Homo sapiens: one gene and its partner. The protein of the gene in region 2 purifies or fractionates together with the protein of the main gene of each other region. This does not show direct contact. Each region holds a gene or a part of one and is shown on either strand. Other genes may lie near its edges.

What was found. The genes of interacting proteins can lie anywhere in the genome.
Region 1: the proteins of RANGAP1 (region 2) and SUPT5H fractionate together in Homo sapiens (co-fractionation; one large-scale study listed by BioGRID). This does not show direct contact.

What each region holds. Positions count from the first base shown.
Region 1 is NC_000019.10:39,469,464-39,473,112, reverse strand, and holds part of SUPT5H (transcription elongation factor SPT5), read right to left. Parts: intron 2,995-3,649; coding exon 2,839-2,994; intron 2,737-2,838; coding exon 2,590-2,736; intron 1,757-2,589; coding exon 1,610-1,756; intron 1,509-1,609; coding exon 1,383-1,508; intron 705-1,382; coding exon 620-704; intron 304-619; coding exon 184-303; intron 102-183; coding exon 1-101. UniProt on the Homo sapiens protein: Component of the DRB sensitivity-inducing factor complex (DSIF complex), which regulates mRNA processing and transcription elongation by RNA polymerase II.
Region 2 is NC_000022.11:41,258,618-41,262,266, reverse strand, and holds part of RANGAP1 (ran GTPase-activating protein 1), read left to right. Parts: intron 1-686; coding exon 687-821; intron 822-3,649. UniProt on the Homo sapiens protein: GTPase activator for RAN. Converts cytoplasmic GTP-bound RAN to GDP-bound RAN, which is essential for RAN-mediated nuclear import and export. Mediates dissociation of cargo from nuclear export complexes containing XPO1, RAN and RANBP2 after nuclear export.

The DNA.
Region 1 (3,649 bases), on a different chromosome or scaffold from region 2:
CGTGGTGAGCCGCTGACGGTCCACAGAGATGGTCTGGCAGGTGGAGTGCAGCTCCACACGGGCCGTGGACTCTGTGGCATCTTTCACCACACCGATGTAGCCTGCAGGGGGACAGGAGGTCAGGCTGGGCAGGCTCTCCTTCACCATGCCCCTCCCCAGGCCTCCACAGGCCTCGCAGGTCACCTTTGTAGGGCCCCTGGGAGATGCGCACGGTCTGGCCGATGAGTTCGTTGTCCCTCCGGCCCCGGCCCCTGCTCATGCCACCACTGCCGCCACCTGGGCTACCAAAGCCGCCACGCTGACCTGGGGATTGGGGAGAATGTCACTGGTCCCCCACGGCTGTGCCCACAGCAAGGGCACCATCAGAACGTCCCCTTCACTTGCTTGACTCCTCCCTACTTGGGTTAAGAGCCTCCTCTGCCCACCCCTGCCCCATGGCTTTCCTATGGAAGCCCTGACCATTCTGGGCTGTCACTGTGGCGTCTACCCTCCTGTGGGTGGTGAACCCCTAATAGCAGTGCCCAGCCCAGCACAGGCACTCAGTGAGTGTAGGCTGAACAACCAAGTTCCTTCCAGCCCCTTCTACCCACCACATCCCCTGACCCTGAACCCCTCTCACCTCCAGCACTGGGGTGCATGGGGCTGCTGATCCGGGGACTCATAGGCGCAAAGCCACCCACGGTGAAGTTGGTCACATCACGGGGCTAGGATAGAAGCAAGGAGTGAACTGGCAGGCAGGGGATGGGGGAACCACAAACCACAGGAACTCATCATCCCACGTGCAGGGCCCTGAGGAGACCACCCAGCCACCCACACCCCAGGCCTGAATTCCTCTGTGACAGCTGGTCCTGCACACTTTCCTACAAGCCCCACCTCAGGGCCTTTGCACTTGCTGTTCCCCCAAAATGCTCACTCTCCATCCCTTCATTCAGGTCTCTGCTCCAATACTGCCTCCCACTGAGGCCTTTTTTACCCTCCTCTGTCTAAAACAGCAGCCCTGGTCACTCCCTGTCTCCTGAGCCCATTCTGTTTTCTTCACAGCGCTTGCTATCACCTCAAGCTGTACGATGGGTTTATCTGTCTGTCCACCTCTAGAGTATCAGCTCTGTGAGAGCAGAGTATTTTTGTCTTGTTCACCACTGGTTCTCCAGTGTCTGGCACCTAACAGGTGCTCAGTAAAATGAAATGAATAAATAACTTAAAATAACTTGGTGAACAGCTCAGAATCCCAAATAAACCTTCTCACTCTTTGCCAAGGACCTGACAATGACACTGCTCTCCTAATCCCTCACAAGCCCAATCTTATCACTTCTGGGGCCAGAGGAGGCTTGGAGAGCTGAGCCAGGTACCCAACGCACAGGGTCCTGCCATGCCCACCTCACCTTTGAGCCCCCAGCCAGCACCAGGTGGCGGGTCTTGCAGACAAACATGCCCCCGTTCTCCACCAGTTTCTTGCAATGTAGGAAGGCGAAGCTTCGGAAGAGATGGCGAATCTCCCCTTCTCGGCCCTAGCCGGGGAGAGAAGGGTCACTCTCTTGACCATGTCCCCCTCACCCCCAACCAACCAAATTCTTTCAGATGCAGCTCAAAAGCAGGAACTTGTACTCACTGAGTGGGGGCCATCAATGACCTTAACGATGTCTTTCACATGGATGTTGTTCTGCTCTGAGTCCAAGGCCACAGCAAAGCGGTTGTCCTTCTTCCGGGTCACAGCCTGATGTCTGACAGTCACCACCTTCCCGTACATGTTCAGCACCTACAGAGGGAGAGCAGGGAGGCTGTGGGGGTGAGAATGGGAAGGGGAGACACGGGGCAGGGGTTCCCTAAAGTGGGATAATCCTTCCTTGTGGGAGACAGTCCCAAGCTCCACAAGGCATCTCAATTCCCTGGCTGCGGGGCAGGCAGGCAGAGTGCCACCCTTTAGGTACTGGGTCAACCAAAAATGTTCCCAGTCATTCTAAAACACCCTTTGGAAGGAGACTCCACCCCCGATTGGGCAACAGGGACCTGAGAGATGGAAGAAGGGGCTGATAGCAACATTGTTCATCCATCATTCTGTGTCAGGCCCCGTAAGATTTCACTGAAGCCTCAAAACTTCCTCTGAGGTGGATTCTGTCATGATTTCCATCTTACAGAGGGAAACTCAGGCTCAGAGAGGGTGAGTCACTAGCCCAGGGTCAGACAGCACAGGAGCAACAAAGCCAAGATGTGGATGTGGAGTCCAGGATCCTAAGTACTGTGCTCCATGACTCCCACATCCATGAGGAAGGAGCAAAGGCAGGAGGGCACATGTGGCACTCCATCCTTGAGCGAGCAACAGCCACCAGGGTACAGATCTAACCTCAGGGAATCATTCACTATGAACAAAGTAGACGCTGCTCTCGTTTCCATTTTATAGGGTGTGAAAACAGGCAAGGGGAGGGATCAATGACTTGCCATGTGCCCACTATCAGCCATTCAGATGTAAGTGACAGAGCCAGATCTGCAACCCAGAGCAGTCTGGGGGCTCTGCCACCTCCCAGGATGAGGGGTTGAGGGACAGGAAGCCTCCTAAAAGCAAGTCCCCGCCACAGAGCACAACACACACACCTGGAAGGTCTCCCGTTCTAGTCGCACGATGACACCCACAGTCTGGGGATCCAGCTGCACCAGCTCGCCCCATTCATGCTGGCCCCCAACATCCACACCTGATGCTGTCTCTGAGCAGAGCTGCAGGTCCCGGGGGAGCACCTTCAGCTGCCAGGGATGGTGAAAGGGGTGAGGCCCAGTCCAGGTGGCTCGCCTACCTGGGTCTCCTCTTGGCACGTGCACCCTTCCCCGACCCTTCTATCCACCTACCTCATGCATGGTGAGGTCAGAGAACAGGATAACGAAATTCTCCTCCACCCGCACAATGAGGCCTGTGTCGCCCTCGAATCGGCCAGCAATCACCTTCACGTGGTCCCCCATCTTGAAGTATTTTCTAAGTTCCTGGGCTGGGAACTCCAACATGTCCTGGGGGATTGGGTGTGGGGACAACAAACAGGTGAAGGGAGACCACCACAACCTGCCTGCCCCTCCTGTCTTCAGAATCTACGCATGTTCTCAAAAACCCCACTTCAGGCTCTTACCACCCACCCCAGACTACCTTAGTCCACCTGGACGACCCCTCAGACTGCCCCAGAAACAGCTGACCCCAGACACAGGACACCAACCTGGACAACCTTTACCCCAGCCCGCCCTCAAGACACACGATGCCTACCTATACCCACACAGAGAGCCTGCCCCTCAGACACAGGACCCCCGACTGGACAGCTCCTCAGCCCCACCCGGAGACAGCCTCACCCCACACATCACACTGGGCCTGCACAACCCCTCAGACATACACCAGACACAGACAAACACACACCCCGCTCTAAGCAAACAAAGTCAAGCCTCAGATTACTCCTTGGTTAATCACACTCTCAACCCAGTACTACCCAGATATCTTGCTTTTCAGAAACAAAAGATAGACCAAGTCACTCTCCAGAGACAGACACCACCAGGCAGGCCTGCTGCCCACCGACCCTGAGCTGCACTCAGACAGAGCCTCTCAGGCACCTGAGAATGCTAGAAGGGCCTCAACTTACCCTCCTGGAAACCAGGTGTCACCAGGCACACCACCGCCTCG
Region 2 (3,649 bases):
GCTTTTCCTAATGGTGTAACCAGGGTAGAAGCTACTTCCTGGCACCACACCAGGGACAGGGCAAGCTGGGTGTTAGGTTTTTACCACCAGCAGGCAAGCTCCTGCTGTGCCTGGCCAGCTTTTAGGCACAGGCAGGTGTCAGACAGGTTCGTCTGGACCGTGGACTTGGCAGCTGGCTCCCTTGGACATTGTGGAACGTGGAAGAGAAGCTGGAAGATTTGGGCTTTGGTCCAGAGTCCACCACTTGTTTATTGACCATAAGAAAGTTTCCGTTCCTCTTACCCTGAGTTTCTTCAGCTGGAAAATGGGAGCCATGATTTTCCCACCTAGCAGAGGGCCTTAGACAGTGAAGTGAGCTGACTAGGAAGTCCTTCCCCTGGACCTGGCTAAAAGTTCATCCACTCCATGTGGTCTCTCCCTTTCCTGAGTAGGGCTTGGTCTCCCCGTCTCGAAAGTGAAGCTAAACCTCTCAGGCTGGTGTGACACAGCATTAGAGATAAAAACCTTGTGTAACTGAAGTGCTGGACATATTTAAGGTGTGACTGTTGAGCTGTTAGCAGTCCTGCGTCCCCTGACCTGCACCGATGGGTGGCGTGGGATGTTGAAGAGCAGTTCAGCAGCAGTGGCCACCCCGCTGGGAGAAGGGGCTCCTGCCCATGACCAGGGCCCCTTGCCTTTCCCCACAGATCCTGGCTGCAGCTCTGACCGAATGTCACCGGAAATCCAGTGCCCAAGGCAAGCCTCTGGCCCTGAAGGTCTTTGTGGCTGGCAGAAACCGTCTGGAGAATGATGGCGCCACTGCCTTGGCAGAAGCTTTTAGGGTGAGTGGTTTCTGTCCATCCTGCCCCTGCAGCCTTGAGGTGCACTCGGCATAGTAGGCTGACAGTTCTGGATGCTAATCCCAGGGCTGGCACTCAACCAAGAGACCTGGGGCGTCACGTGCCCTCTCCAAGCCTGTTAACCCATCCGAAAATGAGCCAGAATTCCTGTCGTGCATTTCTGGAAAGGTGTGTGACTTTCCGGAAAGGTGTGTGACTGGCTCCCACTGGTGAGCCAGCCCCTATGGGGCTTCAGGCCAGGCAGGCCACTCTGACCAAGGAGTGTCATCTGCCAGGCTCAGAAGTGGTGAAGTGAGATGGTGCGAGTGCTGACAGTAGCCTGGCCCAGCCACTGGTGTGGGGCACAGAGAAGGAACATACCAGACCTCCAAGACAGGGAGATAGGCAGGGGCAGCCGCAGGGCTCAGGTGCCAAATGACGTGCTCTCAGGTGACCTTATCCCCACTCCTCTTCCACTCTCCTCTCCCCATCCCCGCAGGACATTGCTGAGTCCCCGATCGTGAGTGCCAGCAGAAGGCTACACTTGCCCCTAACAGGACTGAAAACTTTGGGGTCTGTCTCCCTCCTCTCTTTCCTGTTTTTTTTGAGGCAGAGTCTCATTCTGTCACCCATGCTGGAGTGCAGTGCGTGATCTTGGCTCACTGCAGTCTCCGCCTCCCAGGTTCAAGCAGTTCTGCCTCAGCCTCCCGAGTAGCTGGAATTACGGGCACCCGCCACCACACCCGGCTAATTTTTGTATTTTTATTAGAGACGGGGTTTTACCATGTTGGCCAGGTGGTCTCGAACTCCTGACCTCAAGTGATCTGCCCGCCTGGGCCTCCCAAAGTGCTGGGATTACAGGCGTGAGCCACCACGTCCGGCCCCTCTTCTCTTAATTTAAATGTTTTCTTCAGCAAACAGTATCCTAGGAGCATTGCTCATACGGGCCGGAATGTCCTGGCTGCCCATCGAGGCTGTCTGTAGATACCCTTTGCCTGCTTCAGTGCCAAGTGAACATCGCAGAGATCTGCCTTGTGTCTCCCTGCACCCCTGGCTGCAGGGGAGCTCCTGCTGCCTCCTCTGGAGCTGGTGGGGGCCTCACTGCCATCCTTGGATCCCTCCCTGCCGTCAGCCTGCTGTCCTCAGTGCACTGGGAGGAGGGGGTGCGCTGTGGTTGTGTTGAGCCTTCATAGGTGTCCTCTGGTGGGCTTAGAATGGGGGTTCTTAATCCCCCCCAGTATGTGGATAGAATTCAGGGGTCTGTGAACATGGATGAGGAAAAAATAACATTATTATTTATTACTAATGTAGCTAAAATATGTAGTGTGACCTTTGATTATAAATGTAGACAATAAACCTCACAGCATTAGAAAGGCCTGTGACTACCCACATAACAAACAAGCACATGTAGTCCCTGAACCCAAAAAAAAAAAAAATTTTATTGAGGCAGGGTCTCGCTCTGTTGCCCAGGCTGGAGTACAACGGTGCAATCTCAGCCCACTGCAGTTGAAGCTTCCCAGGCTCAAGTGATCCTCCCACCTCAGCCTCCCGATTAGCTGGGACTACAGGTGTGCACCACCATGCCCACCCAGTTAATTTTTGTATTTTAGTAGAGATGGGGTTTCACCATGTTAGCCAGGCTGGTCTCAAACTCCTGACCTCAGGTAATCCACTCGCCTTGGCCTCCTAAAGTGCTGGGATTATAGGCATAAGCCACTGCGCCCAGCTTAAAATTTTTAAAAAAATAAAAAGAAAATCTTGTGACTTTATCCCCAGTGGAAATCACAGGTATTTCATATGAAGTTATAGTTACTGCTGATATATAGAAATATTTCTCACTACATCAAAATTACAGTAATAGTGGACCCACCCCTAGATCTTGTTATTTGGTGCATTAACAAGAAGTTTGTATATCACTACAGCATGCGTTTGGAGTTTTTTCCTAAATGTTTTGATAACTGTTCCAACTGAGTTGATTTCCTTTGTAATTCTGTGTAATTTATCTTAAAATTTTAAAAAAACATTTTTTGAGGAGGGGACCCAGGGGCTTCACCAGACTGCCTGAAGGGTTCATGGCACAGAAAATACTAAGAAGGCCTGACCTGGAGTGTGCCCAGGTTGGCCTTCCTGTATTTATTTGTGGACCACCCGCTCCCCCCATTGCCCTGTGCTGCACTGAGCACCTGAAGACAGCAGAAGATTCCTTGGCACAGTTAAGCCAGGCCAACCCTCAGTCCTGGGTCACAGTGGAGACTGGGACATGGCCCTCTCCTCCAAAGCTCAGGGGCCGATGGGATGCAGACGGAATATAGGCTTTGAATGTAGGCAGGATGAGGACCACCGTGATAGAGGAGGGACCAGGTGCTCCGGGAGCACAGAGGAACGCACACTGGATCGTGGCTGGGGGAATCCAGGAAGCCTTCCTGGGAGAGGAGGTGACCAAAACAAGAGCCCTAGAACTCATATGAGTTAGCCTGTCAAGAAAATGCTGAATGGCTGGGTGTGGTATCTCACGTCTGTAATCCCAGCACTTTGAGAGGCCGAGGAAGCTGGATCGCCTGAGGTCAGGAGTTCAAGACCAGCCTGGCCAACATGGTGAAACCTCCATCTCTACTAAAAATACAAAATTAGTCGGGTGTGGTGGCGCACGCCTGTAATCTCAGCTACTCAGGAGGCTGAGGCAGGAGAATCACTTGAACCTGGGAGGCAGAGGTTGCGATGAGCCAAGATCATGCCATCACACTCCAGCCTGGGCGACGGAACGAGACTCCGTCTCAAAAAAGGAAAAAAAAAGAAAAAAGAAAAAGAAAATAAGGAGGCAGAGAGAATGG